Linked DNA regions of Homo sapiens. The protein of the gene in region 1 interacts with the protein of each later gene in a biochemical or structural test. Each region holds a gene or a part of one and is shown in the gene's direction. Other genes may lie near its edges. The genes, in order: FZD2, ARHGAP21, APBA2, HTRA1, MAST2, LDB3 and LIMK2.

What was found.
Region 2: the proteins of FZD2 (region 1) and ARHGAP21 interact in a test that uses a peptide from one of them, tested with the Homo sapiens proteins (one large-scale study listed by IntAct).
Region 3: the proteins of FZD2 (region 1) and APBA2 interact in a test that uses a peptide from one of them, tested with the Homo sapiens proteins (one large-scale study listed by IntAct).
Region 4: the proteins of FZD2 (region 1) and HTRA1 interact in a test that uses a peptide from one of them, tested with the Homo sapiens proteins (one large-scale study listed by IntAct).
Region 5: the proteins of FZD2 (region 1) and MAST2 interact in a test that uses a peptide from one of them, tested with the Homo sapiens proteins (one large-scale study listed by IntAct).
Region 6: the proteins of FZD2 (region 1) and LDB3 interact in a test that uses a peptide from one of them, tested with the Homo sapiens proteins (one large-scale study listed by IntAct).
Region 7: the proteins of FZD2 (region 1) and LIMK2 interact in a test that uses a peptide from one of them, tested with the Homo sapiens proteins (one large-scale study listed by IntAct).

What each region holds. Positions count from the first base shown.
Region 1 is NC_000017.11:44,556,108-44,560,283, forward strand, and holds the start of FZD2 (frizzled-2 precursor), read left to right. Parts: upstream 1-1,376; 5' UTR 1,377-1,581; coding exon 1,582-3,279; 3' UTR 3,280-4,176. UniProt on the Homo sapiens protein: Receptor for Wnt proteins.
Region 2 is NC_000010.11:24,615,888-24,619,387, reverse strand, and holds part of ARHGAP21 (rho GTPase-activating protein 21), read left to right. Parts: intron 1-3,500. UniProt on the Homo sapiens protein: Functions as a GTPase-activating protein (GAP) for RHOA and CDC42. Downstream partner of ARF1 which may control Golgi apparatus structure and function. Also required for CTNNA1 recruitment to adherens junctions.
Region 3 is NC_000015.10:29,053,474-29,056,973, forward strand, and holds part of APBA2 (amyloid-beta A4 precursor protein-binding family A member 2), read left to right. Parts: intron 1-371; 5' UTR 372-411; coding exon 412-1,362; intron 1,363-3,500. UniProt on the Homo sapiens protein: Putative function in synaptic vesicle exocytosis by binding to STXBP1, an essential component of the synaptic vesicle exocytotic machinery. May modulate processing of the amyloid-beta precursor protein (APP) and hence formation of APP-beta.
Region 4 is NC_000010.11:122,506,553-122,510,052, forward strand, and holds part of HTRA1 (serine protease HTRA1 precursor), read left to right. Parts: intron 1-138; coding exon 139-333; intron 334-817; coding exon 818-850; intron 851-2,103; coding exon 2,104-2,218; intron 2,219-3,500. UniProt on the Homo sapiens protein: Serine protease with a variety of targets, including extracellular matrix proteins such as fibronectin. HTRA1-generated fibronectin fragments further induce synovial cells to up-regulate MMP1 and MMP3 production.
Region 5 is NC_000001.11:46,033,617-46,036,622, forward strand, and holds the end of MAST2 (microtubule-associated serine/threonine-protein kinase 2), read left to right. Parts: intron 1-185; coding exon 186-322; intron 323-456; coding exon 457-650; intron 651-921; coding exon 922-2,450; 3' UTR 2,451-2,506; downstream 2,507-3,006. UniProt on the Homo sapiens protein: Appears to link the dystrophin/utrophin network with microtubule filaments via the syntrophins. Phosphorylation of DMD or UTRN may modulate their affinities for associated proteins. Functions in a multi-protein complex in spermatid maturation.
Region 6 is NC_000010.11:86,713,511-86,717,010, forward strand, and holds part of LDB3 (LIM domain-binding protein 3), read left to right. Parts: intron 1-2,816; coding exon 2,817-3,261; intron 3,262-3,500. UniProt on the Homo sapiens protein: May function as an adapter in striated muscle to couple protein kinase C-mediated signaling via its LIM domains to the cytoskeleton.
Region 7 is NC_000022.11:31,274,798-31,278,297, forward strand, and holds part of LIMK2 (LIM domain kinase 2), read left to right. Parts: intron 1-353; coding exon 354-511; intron 512-1,639; exon of another isoform or gene 1,640-1,991; coding exon of another isoform or gene 1,992-2,343; exon of another isoform or gene 2,344-2,841; intron 2,842-3,499; coding exon 3,500-3,500. UniProt on the Homo sapiens protein: Serine/threonine-protein kinase that plays an essential role in the regulation of actin filament dynamics. Acts downstream of several Rho family GTPase signal transduction pathways.

The sequences.
Region 1 (4,176 bases):
TTAAAATCCTAGAAGGGAAAAGAAAAATTCTAAAAGTAGCAGGAACCCTGCTGGCCACACCCCACCCCTTACCAGGTGAGAGATGTGGAGGGGATAATTCACCACAACCCCCCAGTTTCCTCCCGCGTCACACACGCCACCCCTCTCTGGTGTGGAACCACTTAAGATTTGGGTAAAACTCCCCTCTCGCCCTGGAGACGGGATCTGGAAGCTTTTAGGGGGCGGAGGTAGAGGTGGGGAGGCAGAAGGAAAATTCCCTCAAACGTTCGTCAGGCCTAAGAGAGTCGTCCCTTCACTCAAAATTGCCCGTCACCCCCCGCCCCCCACCATTAACTTTCGATTAAGACCTCCTCCTTAGGGCAACTAAACTTTACTTTGCACAATTAAGATTTGCCGCAGAAGAAGCGGGAGGGAGAAGCCGCAGCTCCGGGCCATTCTCCTTTCCCTCGCTCCCTCCAAGCCCCCCGCCCCAACCCTCCAGCTCCGGGCCTCCGAGTTCCTGAGTTTTCTCACTTTGAGGTGCCACCGAACACAAAGAACCATAATGGGCTCCTTTGTGTTGGCTACGGGGCAATTACGCCTCGGAGTCCTGGTCCCTTTAAGAGTCTCTTAAAGAGACAGGATCCCATTTTTCAGAGGGTTTTTTAAGGGTGTGTGGAGGGGGAGGGCGAGGGATCTACGTGTAAAGTGAAGTGAAACTTTCGCCTGGGCTCCAGAAAGAGCGGACAGAAAAGGTCTTTGTAAATTGTTAGTTTTTTTAAAGTCTGTTTTAATTTTTAAATTTGAGATTTTTCACTCGATTTGAAAAATTGGACTAGGAATAGGTGGGGTTCGAGGATCGGGGGCGGGGGCAAGGGTTTAAAGAGTCCCCACCCGGCAGAGCACCTCGGCCCGGGAAGAGGAGTGAGCCAGGGTCGAGTAGTGTCCCCCGATCTCGCCGCGGCAACTCCGGAGAAATCCCGGGCTGGGCAAACAGCCCTTAATATAATAATAGCTTGTCTCTTTAAAAAGCAAAAGGGGGGGAAAGTTTTGTTGGCATCTGGTTTCTGATCTCATTATGTTGTGGTCGACCAATCCAGCCCTCGGGCCTGGTCCTCGGGTTTAAATCTGATTGGCCGAGAGCACATTTTGGGTTGGTGCTTAGAGCTCGACGGGGCGGTTTCAAGGATCCCTTTTTTGGGGGGCTGAGGAGAGGGCGGGGCCGCCAGCGGGGGCCCCCTTGAAACCGACTAATTGGGATCGGAGAGGCCGAGGTGAGGGCTGGAGGAGGCACAAAGAAGTCGCTGGGTGCAGAAGGGAGGGGAGAGGGGGAGCTGAGAGGCGAGAGGAGGAGGAAGAGGAGAGAGGGCAGCAGCGCGCGGTGTCTCCGGCTGCTCAGTCCGACCGCGGCAAGCAAGCGGGCAGGCGCACCGCCCCCTCCCCCGCCCGGCCTCCCCAACTCTGCGGCCGCGAGTAAAGTTTGCAAAGAGGCGCGGGAGGCGGCAGCCGCAGCGAGGAGGCGGCGGGGAAGAAGCGCAGTCTCCGGGTTGGGGGCGGGGGCGGGGGGGGCGCCAAGGAGCCGGGTGGGGGGCGGCGGCCAGCATGCGGCCCCGCAGCGCCCTGCCCCGCCTGCTGCTGCCGCTGCTGCTGCTGCCCGCCGCCGGGCCGGCCCAGTTCCACGGGGAGAAGGGCATCTCCATCCCGGACCACGGCTTCTGCCAGCCCATCTCCATCCCGCTGTGCACGGACATCGCCTACAACCAGACCATCATGCCCAACCTTCTGGGCCACACGAACCAGGAGGACGCAGGCCTAGAGGTGCACCAGTTCTATCCGCTGGTGAAGGTGCAGTGCTCGCCCGAACTGCGCTTCTTCCTGTGCTCCATGTACGCACCCGTGTGCACCGTGCTGGAACAGGCCATCCCGCCGTGCCGCTCTATCTGTGAGCGCGCGCGCCAGGGCTGCGAAGCCCTCATGAACAAGTTCGGTTTTCAGTGGCCCGAGCGCCTGCGCTGCGAGCACTTCCCGCGCCACGGCGCCGAGCAGATCTGCGTCGGCCAGAACCACTCCGAGGACGGAGCTCCCGCGCTACTCACCACCGCGCCGCCGCCGGGACTGCAGCCGGGTGCCGGGGGCACCCCGGGTGGCCCGGGCGGCGGCGGCGCTCCCCCGCGCTACGCCACGCTGGAGCACCCCTTCCACTGCCCGCGCGTCCTCAAGGTGCCATCCTATCTCAGCTACAAGTTTCTGGGCGAGCGTGATTGTGCTGCGCCCTGCGAACCTGCGCGGCCCGATGGTTCCATGTTCTTCTCACAGGAGGAGACGCGTTTCGCGCGCCTCTGGATCCTCACCTGGTCGGTGCTGTGCTGCGCTTCCACCTTCTTCACTGTCACCACGTACTTGGTAGACATGCAGCGCTTCCGCTACCCAGAGCGGCCTATCATTTTTCTGTCGGGCTGCTACACCATGGTGTCGGTGGCCTACATCGCGGGCTTCGTGCTCCAGGAGCGCGTGGTGTGCAACGAGCGCTTCTCCGAGGACGGTTACCGCACGGTGGTGCAGGGCACCAAGAAGGAGGGCTGCACCATCCTCTTCATGATGCTCTACTTCTTCAGCATGGCCAGCTCCATCTGGTGGGTCATCCTGTCGCTCACCTGGTTCCTGGCAGCCGGCATGAAGTGGGGCCACGAGGCCATCGAGGCCAACTCTCAGTACTTCCACCTGGCCGCCTGGGCCGTGCCGGCCGTCAAGACCATCACCATCCTGGCCATGGGCCAGATCGACGGCGACCTGCTGAGCGGCGTGTGCTTCGTAGGCCTCAACAGCCTGGACCCGCTGCGGGGCTTCGTGCTAGCGCCGCTCTTCGTGTACCTGTTCATCGGCACGTCCTTCCTCCTGGCCGGCTTCGTGTCGCTCTTCCGCATCCGCACCATCATGAAGCACGACGGCACCAAGACCGAAAAGCTGGAGCGGCTCATGGTGCGCATCGGCGTCTTCTCCGTGCTCTACACAGTGCCCGCCACCATCGTCATCGCTTGCTACTTCTACGAGCAGGCCTTCCGCGAGCACTGGGAGCGCTCGTGGGTGAGCCAGCACTGCAAGAGCCTGGCCATCCCGTGCCCGGCGCACTACACGCCGCGCATGTCGCCCGACTTCACGGTCTACATGATCAAATACCTCATGACGCTCATCGTGGGCATCACGTCGGGCTTCTGGATCTGGTCGGGCAAGACGCTGCACTCGTGGAGGAAGTTCTACACTCGCCTCACCAACAGCCGACACGGTGAGACCACCGTGTGAGGGACGCCCCCAGGCCGGAACCGCGCGGCGCTTTCCTCCGCCCGGGGTGGGGCCCCTACAGACTCCGTATTTTATTTTTTTAAATAAAAAACGATCGAAACCATTTCACTTTTAGGTTGCTTTTTAAAAGAGAACTCTCTGCCCAACACCCCCACAAGGTTTGTAATTAAAACTGTAAATAGTCTTTGTAAATTTAATTATATATATTTTCTATTTAAAAGAAAAAAGGAGAAAAAAAAACAGGGGTGTGGGCGCCAGGACTGAAGAATGAGGTGTGTGTGTGTTGGGGAGTGTAGTTGGGGGGAGGGTTCTCTTTCTTAAGTGCCCTTCAAAACCCGCCCCACTTTTGGAGTTTTTTGGTGATATGGCAGGGCTGGGCCTGATGGGAGAGGCACCCAGCCTGAGCGCTGTTTTTGTTGGCTTTGAGTCGTTAGGAGTTTGTTCCATTCAACTAATATAAAAGCCAAATTTGTGAGCCTCCTCTCTGACGCTGGGCCTGTGGAAGCCGTTGGATATTTTTGAACAGGACTTGGATTCGTTTTGTTTCCTTCCCCCTTTTCTTTCCCTACTCATTTGTCCTGTCTTCTTCACTCACTCTTGGAAAAGTCCCAACAGAGATGAAGACGTGGAAAAAAAAATCGGGGTCGGGGTGTGCTGGTGGGGAGAGGGCAGAGATCCGGTGAGGAATGGCTTCCACCCCCTGGCCCATTCCCCTGCAGGCTGGAAGATCTTTCTCCTGTCTGGCTTCTCTTCTTTTCAATTCGCTGCACCAAGTGCTTCCAGTGGCCCAAAAATGCTTTTTGAAGTGTGTTTTGAAACAGCCCCCACCAACATACACCCCACCAGGAGTACTGATCCTGCCTCCCTTCATGTCTAGGGGAAGCATTCGCCTTTGAG
Region 2 (3,500 bases), on another chromosome or scaffold:
AGAAGTCTTACACTGTGATTTTAAAATGTTTCTAGTGAATCTCATAAGCTGTGCTTCAACCAGAGCTTTCACAAACCTCTTTAAAAGTTATTTCTAGTACCAATTTTCCTTTTTTTAAAAAAAAAACAAAAACTTCATGTACCTAGTACCCATTTCAAATTTTTATTTTGATGAAACAAATTCCTGAGATTAAGGAAATCAGCGAAGCAAATTATACCTAATTGTTGATTCAGGTGAATGAAAAACCAAGTGGAACAGTTTTGATAATTAGTTACCAACCTTTCATTTAAACAGTGCTTTTACTTTCTAAAACATATTTCTTTGTAAATTTAACGTGTACTGAGAGAAAAGACCTCTTCATTGTCAAGTTAGTTTGCCATACTATAAATCCTGGAACAGATTTAGAGAAGTTACTTAAATTATAAGCGTGTGCCACAGTTGCCGGCACCTGTCCTGTTGAGTCTTCTGTCTGCTCCCTCCCACCCCAGATCTGTTCTCCATACAGCAGCCAGTGTGATGTTTTTAAAAATGTCAATTAGATCACACCACTCCTCTGTGCAGAACCCTCTGTTTCCTTCCCATTCATCTCACCCAAAATAGCATGCAAAATCCTCCCGTGATCTGAAAGGCCCTCCATGGTCTGCCTCACAACTCCCTCTCTGATGGTGTCAGAGAGATCCTACTTCGTGATCTCCTATCACAATCTTCCATGTGCATCCCATCTGCAGCCTCACCAGCCTCCTTGCTGTCAGGTGTGTGTTGCTACAGGGACAGGTACAGCTGGTTTCTAACCCTGGTATACATTCCACAGATAGTTAACAAGCCTCTGTCTTCCTCATGACATTTGGGTCTCTGCTCAAAGATCTTATCCAAGCAGGCTTTGTGACTCACCTATCTAAAACAGGTATCCCACGCACAGACACAGAAACGGACATTCTCTTCCCTTAAGCTTTTTTATTTATCTTCGTATTACTGTTTCCACTTGACATGTTTTGTTTTTTTGTTACATGTTTCTCAGTAGAACTAAAACATAAACTACATGAGAGCAGAGATTTAAAATCTTTGGTTCACTTTTGTGTCCCTAATGCCTAGAACACTGCGTGGCACATAAAGAATTCACTCAGTAAGTATTTGTTGAGATAATGGCTGAAAGACAATTTTGAAATGCTGGTTAAATGTATAGCACAACAATACAGTTCTCATCATGACTGTGCAGCTCTAAAACATCATCTGCTAACAGGTGATGACTTATGTCCTTAATATTATCTTCATTTTATAAGTGAGAAATTTAAGGTATAGAGAGGCTAAATAACATCTCTAAAATCGCATAGTAAGTGATAAGAGACAGGGTCTCTAGGTTTGCCTCATTCAGCCTCGTCCCAGAGCACAGCTCCAGGGAGCACGCCATTTATATGGAATGCCTGTGAAGAGCGCCCCCTGGAGGCATGCGATGCAGGGGCTTTTTTCCTTCTCTTTTTGCCACCAACCAAGGCCATACTTGTAGTCCCCCTGGTGTCCCATGGGTTTATGAAAAGAGTTCTCCATCATTTTACAATATAATATGCTTCTCTTTGAGTACTAGTTGAGTTTTTCTTTTCTACGGGAACATTTTTAAAGCTGTTGAGGACTGTTGTTTCTTTTCTACGGAAACATTTTTAAAGCTATCAATTGTAAAGCTATTGATAGCTTTAAAAATGTTTCTTGAGAAAACACTTAATTGGATAGGTGACACTAAAAGCTTTTTTAAAAAGTTCCACACAGCTTATGTTTTTTTTTATAAATCGGATATATTCAAGTTGTCAACATTGTGGGGAATCTCAACCTAAATTGTACCCATATTCATATCTATACCCCTAAGGCCAAGCTCAGCAAATAGTAGACTCCTGTTGTAGATGGAATCTTATACATCATCTAGAATAGATATTTTATAGAAGGCAACTGATGACGAATGATTGTTTTATGAAGTTTTAAAATGTAAAAAAATCTTACAACCTGTGGCTGTTTCACAGGCCCATGCGATCTTATCAGAACAGTGGCATCATATTTTCTTCCTACATAATAACAACAATATAATCAGATTACATTGGAGTAGTAAAAAAATGTGCTGGATATATCTGTTAATATTTCTTCCTAGTTATGAAGTATAGAAATAAAACAATTATGTTATTAAAGAGAAGATTTTGGCTAAAATAGAAAATAAAGATCTGTATAATTCTATATACATATAGATTGATGTAAATAAATAATTTTATTTACTAAGAATAAAAGTACTCTCTAATTAGTTCCTATCTTATTTGACTTTCGCCCTCCTTCCCCCGCTGCTCACCTTCTGCTGTGCGGCCCAGCTCCTAACCGGCCATGGACCAGTACCAGTCTGCAGCGCAGGAGTTGAGGACCCCTGCTATATACTAAGGTTGCAGGAGGCATACAGGCATACAAAACAAAATGAATACATTTTGTTTTTAAATTTGGAATATTACTCATTAACAGTATTTTGTTTACTGTTCCCACCCCCCACTTTATAAAGCTGCATAGTAAGTCCTGAAAATAAATTTCAACTTCTTTTATAAGTAAACACAAACCTCAACAATGTGAGCTGTTCATGAGTAATCTCACGGTGAATAGCAGATATTACAATGTGTTCTAAAATCCTGACTTCCTACACTTCTCTAATTTATACCACTCATTACTAGTAATACAAAAATGCTACGACTGTTACCTACACTCAGGGTTTCATCTTAACTTTCTTTCTCCATAGTTTTGTCATATCTCTTAAGACTCCTCCTCCATCTTACCCCAACATTGGCTGCGTGTGTGCTCAGTTGAGGGTTAGCCCTAAGTTAAATTGAATTTGATGGTCACAGCCTTATTGGCACTGCCATATCAAGATGATTTAGAAGTGTTAGATTTGGTAAGATATAGCTGGATTACATTGTCCATACAGGGGAACTTAGCTCCCTGAAATTTACCCAAAGGGAAGAGGTGACCATTCCCTATACCCAGTTTCTCCCTTTGGGAGCTCTGGGCTCAGTGCCAGTGGTGATATGACAGGACGATGCAATGAGCACCCAGCCCTTCTTTAATACTAATTCAGGCTGAGTCTTAGCAAATAGTCTGTTTATAAAGAGAAATCATATACTTTATCATCTTACATCTTTTATAAAGAGAAATCATGTACTTATCATCTTTATATGTCTTTTTCATATATTGGCTTTTCCCAAAAATGTGATGCCATTGGTACTTAAGCTTAGAGATTTTTGCTTCCACTATTTGAGTAACGATGTGAGGTAATTTAAAAAATAATAAAATAGTCCGGGTGCAGTGGCTTGCGCCCGTAATCCCAGCACTTTGGGAGGCTGAGGCAGTCAGATCACTTGAGGTTGGGAGTTCAAGACCAGCCTGGCCAACACAGTGAAACTCCATCTCTACAAAAAAAAATACAAAAATATTAGCTGGGCGTGGTGGGGTGCCTGTGAGCCCAGCTACTTGGGAGGCGGAGG
Region 3 (3,500 bases), on another chromosome or scaffold:
CTCATTTTCTTCGTGAGAGCAAACAACCTGATCTTCTGACCATTTGTCTTGGTCACCTGGGCTACCCAAACTGAGTGAGAAGTCAGGAATGAGCCGGTAGGTTCCTGGGGAGAGGCGTGTGTCCTCGTGAGTTGCCGGTGCCTCCCTTGACTGCTTTTCCCGGAGCTCTGTGTGCCCTCGTTCTCCTTGGTGTGGATGCGTGTTGTTCTGATGATGAGTTAGCGGGGGTGGGGATGGCGCACTGTTTGAACAGATGTGCCCTCACATGGCTGCGGGAGGACGTGGTGGGAGGTGCTGTGGTGAAGTGGCCCCACACATGGCTGGGCTTTGTGGGGTTTTGACTCTGTCCTTCCCAATGTTCCTCCCCACAGTGGCTGCCTCCGGGTGATGATGGCTGTGTGAACGACTGCCATGGCCCACCGGAAGCTTGAGAGCGTGGGGAGCGGCATGTTGGACCATAGGGTGAGACCAGGTCCTGTCCCTCACAGCCAGGAGCCCGAGAGCGAGGACATGGAGCTGCCCTTGGAGGGCTATGTGCCCGAGGGCCTGGAGCTGGCTGCCCTGCGGCCAGAGAGCCCCGCGCCAGAGGAACAGGAGTGCCACAACCACAGCCCCGATGGGGACTCCAGCTCTGACTACGTGAACAACACCTCTGAGGAGGAGGACTATGACGAGGGCCTCCCTGAGGAGGAGGAGGGCATCACCTACTACATCCGCTACTGCCCTGAGGACGACAGCTACCTAGAGGGCATGGACTGCAACGGGGAGGAGTACCTGGCCCACAGTGCACACCCTGTGGACACTGATGAGTGCCAGGAGGCGGTGGAGGAGTGGACGGACTCGGCGGGCCCGCACCCCCACGGCCACGAGGCTGAAGGCAGCCAGGACTACCCAGACGGCCAACTGCCCATTCCGGAGGATGAGCCCTCCGTCCTTGAGGCCCATGACCAGGAAGAAGATGGTCACTACTGTGCCAGCAAAGAGGGCTACCAGGACTACTACCCCGAGGAGGCCAACGGGAACACCGGCGCCTCCCCCTACCGCCTGAGGCGTGGGGATGGGGACCTGGAGGACCAGGAGGAGGACATTGACCAGATCGTGGCAGAGATCAAGATGAGTCTGAGCATGACCAGCATCACCAGCGCCAGTGAGGCCAGCCCCGAGCATGGGCCTGAGCCAGGGCCTGAGGACTCTGTAGAGGCCTGCCCACCCATCAAGGCCAGCTGCAGCCCCAGCAGGCACGAGGCGAGGCCCAAGTCGCTGAACCTCCTTCCCGAGGCCAAGCACCCCGGAGACCCCCAGAGAGGCTTCAAGCCCAAGACCAGGACCCCAGAAGAGAGGCTGAAGTGGCCCCACGAGCAGGTAGGACCCTGGCTGTCCTGGGGAAGGGAGCAGAGGGGCCCGAGAGCAAGGGACCTCAGGGTACAGGCCTTGCAGATGCTGAAGCGAGGCGGTGGGGGGTGCTGGGTGCCTCACAGTTCTAATGGTGGCTGAGCTCTTCATTGGTCCAGTTGGGAGACATGTTGCGTGGATGCTCCGGCCACTCTTAAGCTCACCGCTCAGACTCAGGACTAAAGCCGGTTGAGGGCTGAGTGGCAACTCGTGTCTCGCAGAAGACACCCCTCCTCCCACCCTAGAAGAGAGGTTCGATTTCTTGCCCACTGCCCTGGTCTGCTCATGGTGGGGCAGTATGTGTGGGAGAGCCCCTCAATCCTCAGGGGTGTACTCAGACCAGCAGGGCAGTGGCAAAGACGTGGGGGTGCTGGTGCTCACCCACTGCTGCGGCCAGTGTTGGGTGGCCTGGTGGCTGGGGTCGGGGCCAGAGTGCATTTCACAATGGACGGGTCTCTGAAAGCCCGGGGGCCTTGGCCTGATGGGCAATCAGCTGTGAATACCTATTTGGAAAAGGATTTTTTGAAGGTTTGACAAAACCTCGGGGAAGAAACGCATGCTAATGAGGGCAGTGGATGTCAGCATAACTGTATTTTAATTATAGCAAAGTCAGCGTGCATTCTAATAAACACATTTGAAAAGCCACCTTCCAAAAAAAGCCTCACTGTGAGTATATAAAGAAGATGTGATTATTGGACTTGTGTGAAGGAACTTCTATTTGGCCAATTATGTGGACTTCTGTCATATTTTTTTACAGCCTTAACTGTTAAATATTTTTTTCCGAGAAGAGTTCATGAATTTGAGTGTGTGTGTGTGTGTGTGTGTGTGTGTGTGTGTGTGTGTGTGTACTGAGAGCTTGGGTTTGGAATGGAAATCATTGGATTTTCAGCACTTATATTTTAATTGACTCCTGGATTTTCAGCACTTGTATTTTAATGTCTTGTATTCTCTCTAAAGAACGTTAAGTGTCAGTTGACTTCACTTTGGGGGTGTTCCTGTCATTCACAGCAATTCCGTGTTTACAGGGGGCTGTGGGATGCATAGGAGCTCCCATGGTACTAGTGGGTGTTGGGAGAGTTCACCCCTAAGGCCAGGAGGCTCTGGACCCTGGGTCTGGGCTTTAGGCCAAAGCAAAGTGTTTCTTTGGTCTTTAGCAGGGCCTGGGCTTGTCCCACAACAGTGGTGAAGGCACCTCAGGGATTGACGTGGGCTGTGCAGAGCGTGTGACATGCTGCGTCTTATTGTGACAAATGGCATCGCTAGCCAAGTTCTTGTCAAAGAAGATTATCTTTAGAGCGTGGTGGGGAGTAAGCAAGACCTGATATTTTCTGGTTTTGTGCTTCATGCTAACCAGATGGTAATTTGGGTAAAAACACAGAGATCTTGCGATTGGAGAGCTGGGAGGTAAATGAGTGGGAATGAATGGATGGATGGGTGATAGTAGCTGTTTAAAAGGGCAGGTGGAGGTAGGGGAAGTCCCCAGCCATTGTGGAGGATCAAGAGGATGTCTGTTCTTCCCAGAAGAGGCATTGAATGAAAAAGTATGTCACTTCTCCCCCTAAGGAGAATGTGTCCTTGAAGGACATGCTCTTGTCTGAGACACTGGAAAAGTTCATTTAAACTGGTTAATGATTGTATAGCTTTTGTTTTGTTTTGTTTTTCCCTCCCTCCCTCCTTTCTGTCCTTTCCTCCTTTCCTCCCTTCCTCCCTTCCTCCCTCCCTCCCTCCCTCCCTCCCTCCCTCCCTCCTTCTCTCCCTCCCTCCCTCCCTCCTCTCTCTCTCTCTCTCTCTCTCTCTCTTTCTTTCTTTCTTTCCTATCAGTTCACAAATTAATTCTGTCAAGGGGAACACCTGCTAGTTCCAGAGTTCCAGGCTGACAAGTACCCTGGTGCCAGGGGCCCTGACTACTCTTTCTGAAGACTCTACCAGGCCCGCTGCACGTGGGCAGGGTCTCCACATTCTTAGATTTGAGTACCCCATTCCAGATGAGGACCTCTTTGAAACCTGACCAGAAAGAGCCGTAGAATTCATCTTGAAAGCAAGATTTTTTATGAAGGATGTGCACTGGGAGATTTGGTGCTGCCTTGCTTGAAATAACAACCTGCTTT
Region 4 (3,500 bases), on another chromosome or scaffold:
TGTGAGCTCAGTTCCCCACCGGGCCTGGTGTTTCCAAATAGCCCGTCACTGTCCCTGCTTGGTTTTCCATGATATCTGTGCCTTTACCTATTTGGTTAAATTAAACCAACTCAGCAACGCCAGCCATTGTGGTTTCAGGGCAAGCTGCCTGTCCTGCTGCTTGGCCGCTCCTCAGAGCTGCGGCCGGGAGAGTTCGTGGTCGCCATCGGAAGCCCGTTTTCCCTTCAAAACACAGTCACCACCGGGATCGTGAGCACCACCCAGCGAGGCGGCAAAGAGCTGGGGCTCCGCAACTCAGACATGGACTACATCCAGACCGACGCCATCATCAACGTGAGCCTCTGTCCCTCTGCGGGTGGGGATTGGGGCAGAGTTTTGCCAGGGGGAGAGGAGTCAGCATAGGTCTTAGCCCCTGACTTTGTTGTAGTCTGCGTGAAGGGATGGAACTAGACCAAGCCATGTGGATTCTAGTGCCAGCAGCATGGCAGGGGTCACATGGCGGGGACGGTGACACCGGAGCAGGTGGACAGCCAGCCTCCTCCCAGGAGGAAGAAGTTGTATTGGGTGCTTTAGGGTGATTGCAGTTGGCTTCTGGGCTTCAGAGAGAAAATCTCCCTGTTTACGGCACCTCTAAAACTTTCTGAAAATTGTTAAGGTCATTTTTTTCCGGCAAAATATTAGGTTAATGGGAATGAATCTCAGAGAAGAATCGTGCCCCCCACTCTAGGCACCGTGCTCAGGAAACGACCAGGCAGGGACATAGATTGAACCATGTTATGACACGATTTGTAACCTTTTCATTTCTGTTTAATTGCAGTATGGAAACTCGGGAGGCCCGTTAGTAAACCTGGTAAGGTCTTTTAAACCTATGTTAGGTCATTTGTTTTTATCTATGTATACGCTGTTTTTTGTTTGTTTGTTTGTTGTTTGTTTGTTTTTGAGGCAGGGGGTCTTTTCAAACATAAGGTTGCCAAAGTGTATTATAAATTCCTTTAAAATGGCTCTGTAAATGTACTGCGTGCTTGCAAATGACCCTACGGATCTTTTCTGGAAAGAGTAAGGCAGGCCGGAGGTGAGGGTTGGAAATGTTATGCCAGAGAACACACTTGTGTCTCAGAGTTACAGGTAAACACCGTGAAATTCAGGGCCAATGCAGGAGTAAGGTGAAGGTCACTAAAAATGCTGGCCAGTCACCGAAAGCACCTCCTCCAAATTAAATCTCCTGGGCTGCTGAAGGAGCTGGCTGGGCTCATACACATTTTCTCTTGGCCAGGAATCCTCCCTTAAGGCCTGGCTGGAATGAGGAGGAGTTACCCACCCACAAAGATATCACTTAAGTCTTCCCTTAAATACTTGAGCAGAAAAAGTGAAGCCTTAGAACACAGACCAGCAGAGCTAGAGGGCAGCTCTGGGGCCATTTATAGAGGGCAGCTCTGGGGCCATTTATAGAGGGCAGCTCTGGGGCCATTTATAGGGGCTGTCTTTAGCAAGGCCCAGTGTGATGGCACCTCCTAGATGGTGCCTTGGCATCAGGTACTGACATCTCAGCACTCCTGGGAAGTGTGCACTTGGCAGCTTTCTCTTCCCAGCAGAGGGGCAGCTGTGCTCCCAGCTCTGTCCTCTGCCTCCCCGCGCAGCACTTGGGGATGGAGTGGAGATGGCTTTGCTGGTAATGAAGCATGACAGCCCTAAGCTCTAGGGTTGTTTCCCCCTGAAGTCAGCAGAGTCATCTTAAGATCATTAGACATGGGAGAAGCAGGAAGGTGTGGGCAGCCACCTAAAGGAGTTTGAGCCTTTGGAAACGTATTCCTTGTGAAACAGGAGCAAATCATATCGTGCATTTTGAAACTATCTGTGCTTACCGTGAGGTGAGCACCCAGTGCCGACCTGGAGTATGTGCGATTCTTCCACAGCTGCGCGTGGCTCGCGCTGCCTGGGTGTCCTGATGCCTCTCTCCCTGCTGCCACGGGGATCCCCTCCTTGCATCTCCCCACTTCGATCTCTGAAATAGCTCAGGGACTTCTTTCAGGCATATTCTCTCTGGGTGTGTACCTGCCGGTAAAGCTTCACGATTCAGTAAGCCGTGTCCTTCTTGCTTTTCAGGACGGTGAAGTGATTGGAATTAACACTTTGAAAGTGACAGCTGGAATCTCCTTTGCAATCCCATCTGATAAGATTAAAAAGTTCCTCACGGAGTCCCATGACCGACAGGCCAAAGGTAGGCAAGGCCCACACAGCCCTGGGGACTCCGGAGATGGGGCCTGAAGCTCAGCTGCCCTTTGGGACTTGGGGAAGGGAAAAGCGGCAGCCCCTAGGACTAGCCAAGCCGTCTCTGATCCAGAAGTGAACGGGAATGCACATTACTAAATCCCTCGCAGAAGGTCACAGACATTTCACCATTTTTGTCCTCTGATCATGGCAATGTCACTTGAGTCAGTCTAATATGTACCAGGCATGATCCTAGGTGACTTGTGTACATTATTTCACTTTCTTTATGTATGTCACTTAATTCTTTTGCCCTATCAGTTAGGAATTACTAGTCCCATTTTGCTGATGAGAAAACGGTTCAGGGAGATCATTCTGCAAACGTTTATTGCCCCATCTGCTCTAAGTCAAGCAGGGAGCTTGGCAGTGGACAGCTCAACTGGGGCCTGGGGCTCAACAGGGGCCTTTGCCGGTGTGACTTTTATGTTCTGTTGGGGGATGGGAAGGCTGACAGTAAATAATCAAACACATAAGATACTATTAGTGCTCCCAAGAAAACGGATCAGGGTGGCCGTCAAGGGAGCGACTGGAGGGGCAGCTGGTGGAGATGGTGTGGCCAGGAAATGCCTTCCAAGCTGAGGTCTGAGTGAGGAGGAACCAGCGGGCAGGGATGTGGGGGGAACACTCCAGAAGGAAAGACAGAGGACTCAGCATAGTTGAGTGAGCACAAGGCCCCTGAAGTGGCCTGAGGGCCGGAGCACAGTGACAGCATGGAGTTCCCCGGGGTGGAAAGAGGCCAAGGCCGGGCGAGCAGGCTCACAGCAGGCCGTGGTGAGGGACCTGGGTTGCATCCTAACGACATTTAAGAACAGGGAAGTTTATGATCTGATTGATGTCACTGAAAGGACACTCTGATGGCTGCGGGGAGTCTGCTGGAGGGGTTGCTGGAAGTTGGGGACCGGTTAAGGGGCTCTCCCAGCCATCTGGATGAGACATGCTGGGGTCTCAGACAAGGGTGGTGGCAGTGGAGGTGGGACAGAGGGGTCACATTCCAGATATATATGGGGGGTAGAGCAAGCTTGGGGAAGGGCCAGCTGTCAGGATGAGGCCATGAGGAATTAAGGGTCATGCCCAGGTACCTGACCATTAATTGAAACAATGGGACTTTCCCAAGGTCCCCCAGAGGGGAGGGGTCCAGACCAGGATTTGAGCCGCAACCTCAGTGTACCCTTCTGTGGCCCTTCCTGCAACCTGGGGGATTGGGCCCCCGGCCCCTGGTGTCCCCAGCACCCCCA
Region 5 (3,006 bases), on another chromosome or scaffold:
GGGCTCCAATGGGAGCCATTTCCTCATCTGTAAAAACAATAATATAGGCCTGTGGTTCAGATGTGTTGGTGCAGGGACAAAAAGCTGGAGCTGTGGTATAGCCATGCCAGAAGGGAAGGATTGGGGGAGGGGAGGGGCAAGAATATGGCTCCAGCTTAGCCTAGGCCTCATGCTCTGCTCCCCAGAGTGGAAACAAGGTGGCCATTTCAACAACTCCCCTGGAGAACACATCCATTAAAGTGGGGCCAGCTCGGAAGGGCAGCTACAAGGCCAAGATGGCCCGAAGGAGCAAGAGGAGCCGCGGCAAGGATGGGCAAGAAAGGTGAGCCAGGCGCAGTGAAGAGGGTTTTCTCTGAGCCACATGAGTGCTGGTACGTGGTGGGTGCCTTGGCCCTGGGGGTCCAGTGTGTGCTGTGCTCACTGCACCGACTCAGCCTTTGACCCTTATCCCCGCAGCAGAAAAAGGAGCTCCCTGTTCCGCAAGATCACCAAGCAAGCATCCCTGCTCCACACCAGCCGCAGCCTTTCTTCCCTTAACCGCTCCTTGTCATCAGGGGAGAGTGGGCCAGGCTCTCCCACACACAGCCACAGCCTTTCCCCCCGATCTCCCACTCAAGGCTACCGGGTGACCCCCGATGCTGTGCATTCAGGTACGAAGGGCTCCCTGCAGATCAGTGACAACCCCTGGGAAATAGGAAAGTTCCTAGGCCCTGTGTGCTTCTGACAGATCCCACTCTGAGTCTCTCATTTAGCCCACCCCCTGAAAGATCCTGTAGTCTTGGGGAGGAATTAATTGATGGGGAAGGGGGTAGCTTGGTTTCTGGGACATAACAGGGCTAAGCCCTGTCTTGCCCTTGAGTCACTTCTAACAGCTAACACTGCTCTGCTTTTGTCTGTCTGTCTGTCTGTCTCTGTACAAAGTGGGAGGGAATTCATCACAGAGCAGCTCCCCCAGCTCCAGCGTGCCCAGTTCCCCAGCCGGCTCTGGGCACACACGGCCCAGCTCCCTCCACGGTCTGGCACCCAAGCTCCAACGCCAGTACCGCTCTCCACGGCGCAAGTCAGCAGGCAGCATCCCACTGTCACCACTGGCCCACACCCCTTCTCCCCCACCCCCAACAGCTTCACCTCAGCGGTCCCCATCGCCCCTGTCTGGCCATGTAGCCCAGGCCTTTCCCACAAAGCTTCACTTGTCACCTCCCCTGGGCAGGCAACTCTCACGGCCCAAGAGTGCGGAGCCACCCCGTTCACCACTACTCAAGAGGGTGCAGTCGGCTGAGAAACTGGCAGCAGCACTTGCCGCCTCTGAGAAGAAGCTAGCCACTTCTCGCAAGCACAGCCTTGACCTGCCCCACTCTGAACTAAAGAAGGAACTGCCGCCCAGGGAAGTGAGCCCTCTGGAGGTAGTTGGAGCCAGGAGTGTGCTGTCTGGCAAGGGGGCCCTGCCAGGGAAGGGGGTGCTGCAGCCTGCTCCCTCACGGGCCCTAGGCACCCTCCGGCAGGACCGAGCCGAACGACGGGAGTCGCTGCAGAAGCAAGAAGCCATTCGTGAGGTGGACTCCTCAGAGGACGACACCGAGGAAGGGCCTGAGAACAGCCAGGGTGCACAGGAGCTGAGCTTGGCACCTCACCCAGAAGTGAGCCAGAGTGTGGCCCCTAAAGGAGCAGGAGAGAGTGGGGAAGAGGATCCTTTCCCGTCCAGAGACCCTAGGAGCCTGGGCCCAATGGTCCCAAGCCTATTGACAGGGATCACACTGGGGCCTCCCAGAATGGAAAGTCCCAGTGGTCCCCACAGGAGGCTCGGGAGCCCACAAGCCATTGAGGAGGCTGCCAGCTCCTCCTCAGCAGGCCCCAACCTAGGTCAGTCTGGAGCCACAGACCCCATCCCTCCTGAAGGTTGCTGGAAGGCCCAGCACCTCCACACCCAGGCACTAACAGCACTTTCTCCCAGCACTTCGGGACTCACCCCCACCAGCAGTTGCTCTCCTCCCAGCTCCACCTCTGGGAAGCTGAGCATGTGGTCCTGGAAATCCCTTATTGAGGGCCCAGACAGGGCATCCCCAAGCAGAAAGGCAACCATGGCAGGTGGGCTAGCCAACCTCCAGGATTTGGAAAACACAACTCCAGCCCAGCCTAAGAACCTGTCTCCCAGGGAGCAGGGGAAGACACAGCCACCTAGTGCCCCCAGACTGGCCCATCCATCTTATGAGGATCCCAGCCAGGGCTGGCTATGGGAGTCTGAGTGTGCACAAGCAGTGAAAGAGGATCCAGCCCTGAGCATCACCCAAGTGCCTGATGCCTCAGGTGACAGAAGGCAGGACGTTCCATGCCGAGGCTGCCCCCTCACCCAGAAGTCTGAGCCCAGCCTCAGGAGGGGCCAAGAACCAGGGGGCCATCAAAAGCATCGGGATTTGGCATTGGTTCCAGATGAGCTTTTAAAGCAAACATAGCAGTTGTTTGCCATTTCTTGCACTCAGACCTGTGTAATATATGCTCCTGGAAACCATCTTTATGTCTTTTGCTTGCTTGTTTTCCTTCGGTCAACCCACATGTAACTAGGTCCTGTGTTGCTGCTGGGAATATAGTGGTGAATAAAACAGTTTCCACCACCAGGGGAGGGCCACCTAACCCAGCTTGACTTCCCAAAGGCTTTGACATTTGAGCTCAAACATGAAGAATAGATGATAGGTAGTAGTTTGCTGGGTGTGGAAGAGTGGAGGTTGGCATAAGAAAGGCTGTCCAGGCAACGTTTAGCACATGCAGTATACCTGGCATAGTCAAGGAACCAAAGATAATTCAAAGTAGAAACGGGTCTGGCAAGTGAGGCAAGGGCCATGTCTAATGGTCTTCCAGGAGATTTGACTTCGTGAAGGTGATGGGGAACCAGAAAATACCATGTAGCAACTAAAATTCCTTCATAGATAAGGGCACTAAGACTTTGATGCCCATGGTAATACAGTAGCTTGGGTAGAACGGGGGTTAGAACGTAGGTCTCCCTTGGACTCC
Region 6 (3,500 bases), on another chromosome or scaffold:
CTGGGATTACAGGCGTGAGCCACCGCGCCCAGCCAATCTTAATCTTTTTTAGCAGAGAATTGCACTTCACAAAGAAAGGAAAGAAAATGTTGCACAGAACCCCCTTATATATAACAGAGGGATGAAGCTGCTCTGAAGTTGTGCTAGATCACCTCTCCCTGCTCTCTGTCCCTGGTGGTGTTCCTGGAATCACTTCTTCCCCCAGCATTTTGATATTCTCTGCAAAGTTGTTAGGGAGGGTGACAATACCTCAAATTTGGGCTGTACACATTTACAAAATCCATTCACTATGTCACCCCAGCAGGTCCCCAGCATGCCCTGTGGGGCAGGCAGGGTGTCAGGCATTCCACCACCACTGAATAGACCTCAGTCTCAGGTTATCTGACTTCAGGATGTTCCATTTCCCTTCCCTCCTCTCCCCCAACCCTAGGCGCTACCAGTCTAACTGGGCTGGGCTTCCCTAGGTGAGCAGCAGGCCATGAGACAGGCTGACAGTACATCTGACCCTGACACCCAGGTTGCCCCCATCCTTGCCATCCTCACTCACATTTAGTGACACACTATGCCAGGTACTAGGCTACGCTCTTTATATTTCTTACCTTCCCTTAATCCTCATAATAACCTTGTGAGATACTAAGAATCAGTATTGCCAGTTTTAGATGAAGAAATTGAGGCCCAGAGAGGTTAAGGAACTTGCCCAAGGACACAAAACCAGGAGGTAGTAGAGCTGGATCCTGCAGCCAGGGCTCTTGGCTATGCTATCAAGACTCCACAGCAGGGGGTCTCCTTCATGTTGAAAATGACTCCTCCCTGACATGTTGCACTGAGATTTTCTAGAAATTGGACTCATATTCTTTACAGAGGCAGCTTGGGATGATAGAATGAATGGATTTGGAGATGTATTCCCACTTACTAGCTCTGTCTGAGCCTCAGTGACCTCAAGTGTAAAGAGGGAATAATGTGAAGACCGATTCAGATGACAGATGCTATGTGCCTCGTTACCCCTAAAGGGGAGGAAGATTCCTTATGGAGAAGGTATTATCTTTTTTTTTTTTTTTTTTTTGAGATGGAGTCTTGCTCTGTTGCCCAGGCTGGAGTGCAGTGGTACGATCTCGGGTCACTGCAAGCTCCGCCTCCTGGGTTCACGCCATTCTCCTGCCTCAGCCTCCTGAGTAGCTGGGACTACAGGCACCCGCCACCACACCCAGCTAATTTTTTGTATTTTTTTAGTAGAGATGGGGTTTCACCACATTAGCCAGGATGGTCTCGATCTCCTGACCTCATGATCTGCCCACCTCAGCCTCCCAAAGTGCTGGGATTACAGGCGTGAGCCACCATGCCCAACCGGTATTATCTTTTGAAGGCCTCACTGGCAGGATGGCTCCAGGGCAGGGCTGTGGAGGGTTTTATCTCTTCTTCCTTCAACAACATGGATGGATCCTATCTACCTGGTCCCTACTCACCCCCAGCACAGGGATTTCCAGCTCACCCAGCTCTGAAGGGTGGGTCACCTGGGAGTGGAAGGTGCAGAGTGGGAGCCACAGGCTGCCCCAGGCGGTCCAGGGGAACCAGGTGGGAAAGAGAGACTGGAGATGGGGCCAGGGTCTTAGGCCCTAAGGAAAACCTTCCTCTCCAGGTTGAGGCTGGAGTATGGGGTGGGGGGCAGAGGCGGGGTGTGGGTGCAGGGACTGCCTCAATGCAGTCCATCCTGCCCATACTGAGCTCAGGAATGGGGAGGGAGGCTGTGCTGACATGCTTCCTAGGGTTGGGGGAATGAGGCCTCTTTGCTGAGGAGCAGACTGAAATGTGGTGAGGCTTCTGGAACCTCACTCACTGGAAGAGGAAGCCAGCTGGACCTTGCCTGCAGGGTGCAGCTGGGTCTGCCCTGGCTAGGTGTTGAGGGCCCAGGCGGGAGAGGGCTGTGGGTAAGCAGTGGCAATGCTTTTTCTGTGCTGTGAGCCCAAAACGTTTTTCTGCTCTCAGGGAGCTGGAGGAGGGGGTGATAGAAGTGAGGTGGTGCATTCTCTTCCCTGTGCTCTGACTGCCTGGGCAATCTTTAGACAGTCACTCAGACACACTCTCAGCTTCCACCAAAGCGATGTGGGAGTACAGGGGTCCCCCAAGGCAGCCACGGGCCAAGTGAGCAGCTACTTCTAGGCTGTGTCACCCTAGAGTCTCTGCCCAGCACCCTCTGAATGACTCCTTCAAGATCCCCCACCCTAATCAAACCAAGACGGAATTGCCCCCCAATACAAATCAAGCCAAGCTGTTTTTCAAGAAAGTAATTGTAGCTAAACCTGAAACCTGAACCTGAAAACCCAGCTACCAGGTCACCTGTTTTGTCCTGAGGGCTGACCTAGGTCCAGGTTCAGCAAACTTATGCCAAGGGAGGTATTTCAGATGTCAAATCACTGGTCAGAGTGCAACTGAAAGCATCTTGCAGTCAAAGGCGAGGTGACCCACTCCCACCTCTCCCCGCCCAGGTACCCCCACCCCCACTCTGCGTCTTATGCAGGCCTTGGGCAGTCAAGGCCTGGCGGAGCCCCACCCTGCACAGCTGCAAATATTTATAGCCATGTCCCTTTTCCAGCCCTGTCGAGGGTTCTGCTGTGCTTGCTCCCTAGCTCTGTGAACACCCTGCTGAGAATTCAAATCTGGGCCATCAAGAAGTTCAGGAACAAGTCTCCCAAAAAAACTGAAATTGTACTGCTCTAATGTTAAAGTCACCTTTTGCATTTCTCTGGCTAGGAGTGAGGGGAACTGGGAAGAATGAATTCCTGACACACCTTTCTTTGGGTTTTTTTTGGCTTTTGCAGTGCCTGCATCTACCTACAGCCCGTCCCCAGGGGCCAATTACAGTCCCACTCCCTACACCCCCTCCCCTGCCCCTGCCTACACCCCCTCCCCTGCCCCTGCCTACACCCCCTCACCTGTCCCCACCTACACTCCATCCCCAGCACCAGCCTATACCCCCTCACCTGCCCCCAACTATAACCCTGCACCCTCGGTGGCCTACAGCGGGGGCCCTGCGGAGCCTGCCAGCCGTCCACCCTGGGTGACAGATGATAGCTTCTCCCAGAAGTTTGCCCCGGGCAAGAGCACCACCTCCATCAGCAAGCAGACCCTGCCCCGGGGAGGCCCAGCCTACACCCCAGCGGGTCCTCAGGTGCCACCACTTGCCAGGGGGACCGTCCAGAGGGCTGAGCGATTCCCAGCCAGCAGCCGGACTCCACTCTGCGGTCACTGCAACAATGTCATCCGGTATGGTCCAGCTGTGCCCCTGCACTGGGGCACTGGAAGGGCGTGTGTGTGGGGTGCTTGCCCACAGTCTGAGCCCTGGTTGGGAGAGATGGGGGTAGGAGGCAGGTGTAGGGAGAAAGCCTCGGGTCCTTCTGGCTTGCCATCTGGTCTTACCTCTCTGAGCCTTAGCTGCCATACCTGTGTGACACCCACTCTCCCAGGGAGCTGGGAGGAATGGCATGAGGTATGTGGGTGAAGCT
Region 7 (3,500 bases), on another chromosome or scaffold:
ATCAGATCCAGCACCTCATAGAGCCTTAACTCTGGCACACACACACAGCCACAAGGAGACACAGACAAGGCAGGGTAGGATGAGTGGAAGCTAGGAGCAGATGCTGATTTGGAACACTTGGCTTCTGCAGTGAAGCCCCTTCTTAGTCCTCTTCAGTAACCCAGCTCTCAGTGGATACAGGTCTGGATTAGTAAGATTTGGAGAGATGATTGGGGATTGGGGAGAGCTCTCTAACCTATTTTACCACCTCCTCTTCTGCCATTCTTCCTGTCCACATCCCAGCATCCCTTTCCCTTGCCAAGTATCTGTGGCCTCTGTAGTCCTTTGTAAACAGCTGTCTTCTTACCCTACAGATCATTGGGCAGGTGTATGCAGATCCTGACTGCCTTCCCCGAACACTGGACTTTGGCCTCAACGTGAAGCTTTTCTGGGAGAAGTTTGTTCCCACAGATTGTCCCCCGGCCTTCTTCCCGCTGGCCGCCATCTGCTGCAGACTGGAGCCTGAGAGCAGGTTGGTATCCTGCCTTTTTCTCCCAGCTCACAGGGTCCTGGGACGTTTGCCTCTGTCTAAGGCCACCCCTGAGCCCTCTGCAAGCACAGGGGTGAGAGAAGCCTTGAGGTCAAGAATGTGGCTGTCAACCCCTGAGCCATCTGACAACACATATGTACAGGTTGGAGAAGAGAGAGGTAAAGACATAGCAGCAAGTAATCTGGATAGGACACAGAAACACAGCCATTAAAAGAAAGTTTAAAAGAAGGAAATTCACCCAAACCATTTGAATACAGTAAGTGTATTCATCTTTCGATATTCCCCTGTCCATATCTACACATATACTTTTTTTTATAGTAAATAGTTCTGTATTTTGCCCTGCATTTCCCTTGTGTTTACTATCCAGTCTTCCTGTTTATCATTTTTGTCGACAACATGAAATTCTATTGAGAGACTGTCTGAACATATTGTAATGTAGATGTTCAGGTTTTTCCAGTTTCTCTTTACAATAGGTATTTAACTACAGTGAGCAGTTTTATGCATTTAGCTAATTTCTCCTTTGAGGAAGTATTTTCAAAATTACCTTTATTCTTCTCAGGTAATAATTTCATTATTACCAAAGTTACCCTAGGTCTTTTCAAGTGTGTGGTTAAAAAACGAGAATCTGGCTGGGCGCGATGGCTCACACCTGTAATCCCAGCACTTTGGGAGGCTGAGGCTGGTGGATCACCTGAGGTCTGGAGTTCGAGACCAGCCTGGCCAACATGGTGAAACCCCATCTCTACTAAAAATACAAAACTTAGCCAGGCATGGTGGCAGGTGCCTGTAACCCCAGCTACTTGGGAGGCTGAGGCAGGAGAATTGCTTGAACCCAGGGGCGGAGGTTGCAGTGAGCCGATATCACGCCATTGCACTCCAGCCTCGGCAACAAGAGTGAAACTCTGTCTCAAAAATGGGGTTCTTTTCCTGCCATCAAAAATCATGTTTCTTTTAAAAACAAGTTCAAACATTACCAAAGTTTATAGCACAGGAAATACGTCTTCTGTAATCTCCCTTAACCAATATATCCCTCAACATTCTCCTCACCCCCAACTCCACCCTCCCAGGATAACCAGTTGGGACATAATCTTTATTTAAAAATGGTTTCCGGATAGAGAAAGCGCTTCGGCGGCGGCAGCCCCGGCGGCGGCCGCAGGGGACAAAGGGCGGGCGGATCGGCGGGGAGGGGGCGGGGCGCGACCAGGCCAGGCCCGGGGGCTCCGCATGCTGCAGCTGCCCCCGGGCGCCCCCGCCGCCGCCCTCGCCGCGGAGCCGGCGAGCTAACCTGAGCCAGCCGGCGGGCGTCACGGAGGCGGCGGCACAAGGAGGGGCCCCACGCGCGCACGTGGCCCCGGAGGCCGCCGTGGCGGACAGCGGCACCGCGGGGGGCGCGGCGTTGGCGGCCCCGGCCCCGGCCCCCAGGCCAGGCAGTGGCGGCCAAGGACCACGCATCTACTTTCAGAGCCCCCCCCGGGGCCGCAGGAGAGGGCCCGGGCTGCGCGGATGATGAGGGCCCAGTGAGGCGCCAAGGGAAGGTCACCATCAAGTATGACCCCAAGGAGCTACGGAAGCACCTCAACCTAGAGGAGTGGATCCTGGAGCAGCTCACGCGCCTCTACGACTGCCAGGAAGAGGAGATCTCAGAACTAGAGATTGACGTGGATGAGCTCCTGGACATGGAGAGTGACGATGCCTGGGCTTCCAGGGTCAAGGAGCTGCTGGTTGACTGTTACAAACCCACAGAGGCCTTCATCTCTGGCCTGCTGGACAAGATCCGGGCCATGCAGAAGCTGAGCACACCCCAGAAGAAGTGAGGGTCCCCGACCCAGGCGAACGGTGGCTCCCATAGGACAATCGCTACCCCCCGACCTCGTAGCAACAGCAATACCGGGGGACCCTGCGGCCAGGCCTGGTTCCATGAGCAGGGCTCCTCGTGCCCCTGGCCCAGGGGTCTCTTCCCCTGCCCCCTCAGTTTTCCACTTTTGGATTTTTTTATTGTTATTAAACTGATGGGACTTTGTGTTTTTATATTGACTCTGCGGCACGGGCCCTTTAATAAAGCGAGGTAGGGTACGCCTTTGGTGCAGCTCAAAAAAAAAAAAAAAAATGATTTCCAGCGGTCCACATTAGAGTTGAAATTTTCTGGTGGGAGAATCTATACCTTGTTCCTTTATAGGCCAAGGACCGCAGTCCTTCAGTAACACCAGTGTAAAAGCTTGAGGAGAAATTGTGAAGCTACACAGTATTTGTTTTCTAATACCTCTTGTCATTCTAAATATCTTTAATTTATTAAAAAATATATATATACAGTATTGAATGCCTACTGTGTGCTAGGTACAGTTCTAAACACTTGGGTTACAGCAGCGAACAAAATAAAGGTGCTTACCCTCATAGAACATAGATTCTAGCATGGTATCTACTGTATCATACAGTAGATACAATAAGTAAACTATATTGAATATTAGAATGTGGCAGATGCTATGGAAAAAGAGTCAAGACAAGTAAAGACGATTGTTCAGGGTACCAGTTGCAATTTTAAATATGGTCGTCAGAGCAGGCCTCACTGAGGTGACATGACATTTAAGCATAAACATGGAGGAGGAGGAGTAAGCCTGAGCTGTCTTAGGCTTCCGGGGCAGCCAAGCCATTTCCGTGGCACTAGGAGCCTGGTGTTTCCGATTCCACCTTTGATAACTGCATTTTCTCTAAGATATGGGAGGGAAGTTTTTCTCCTATTGTTTTTAAGTATTAACTCCAGCTAGTCCAGCCTTGTTATAGTGTTACCTAATCTTTATAGCAAATATATGAGGTACCGGTAACATTATGCCCATTTCTCACAGAGGCACTACTAGGTGAAGGAGTTTGCCTGACGTTATACAACCAGGAAGTAGCTGAGCCTAGATCCCTTCCACCCACCCCATGGCCCTGCTCATGTTCCACCTGCCTCTAATTTACCTCTTTTCCTTCTAGA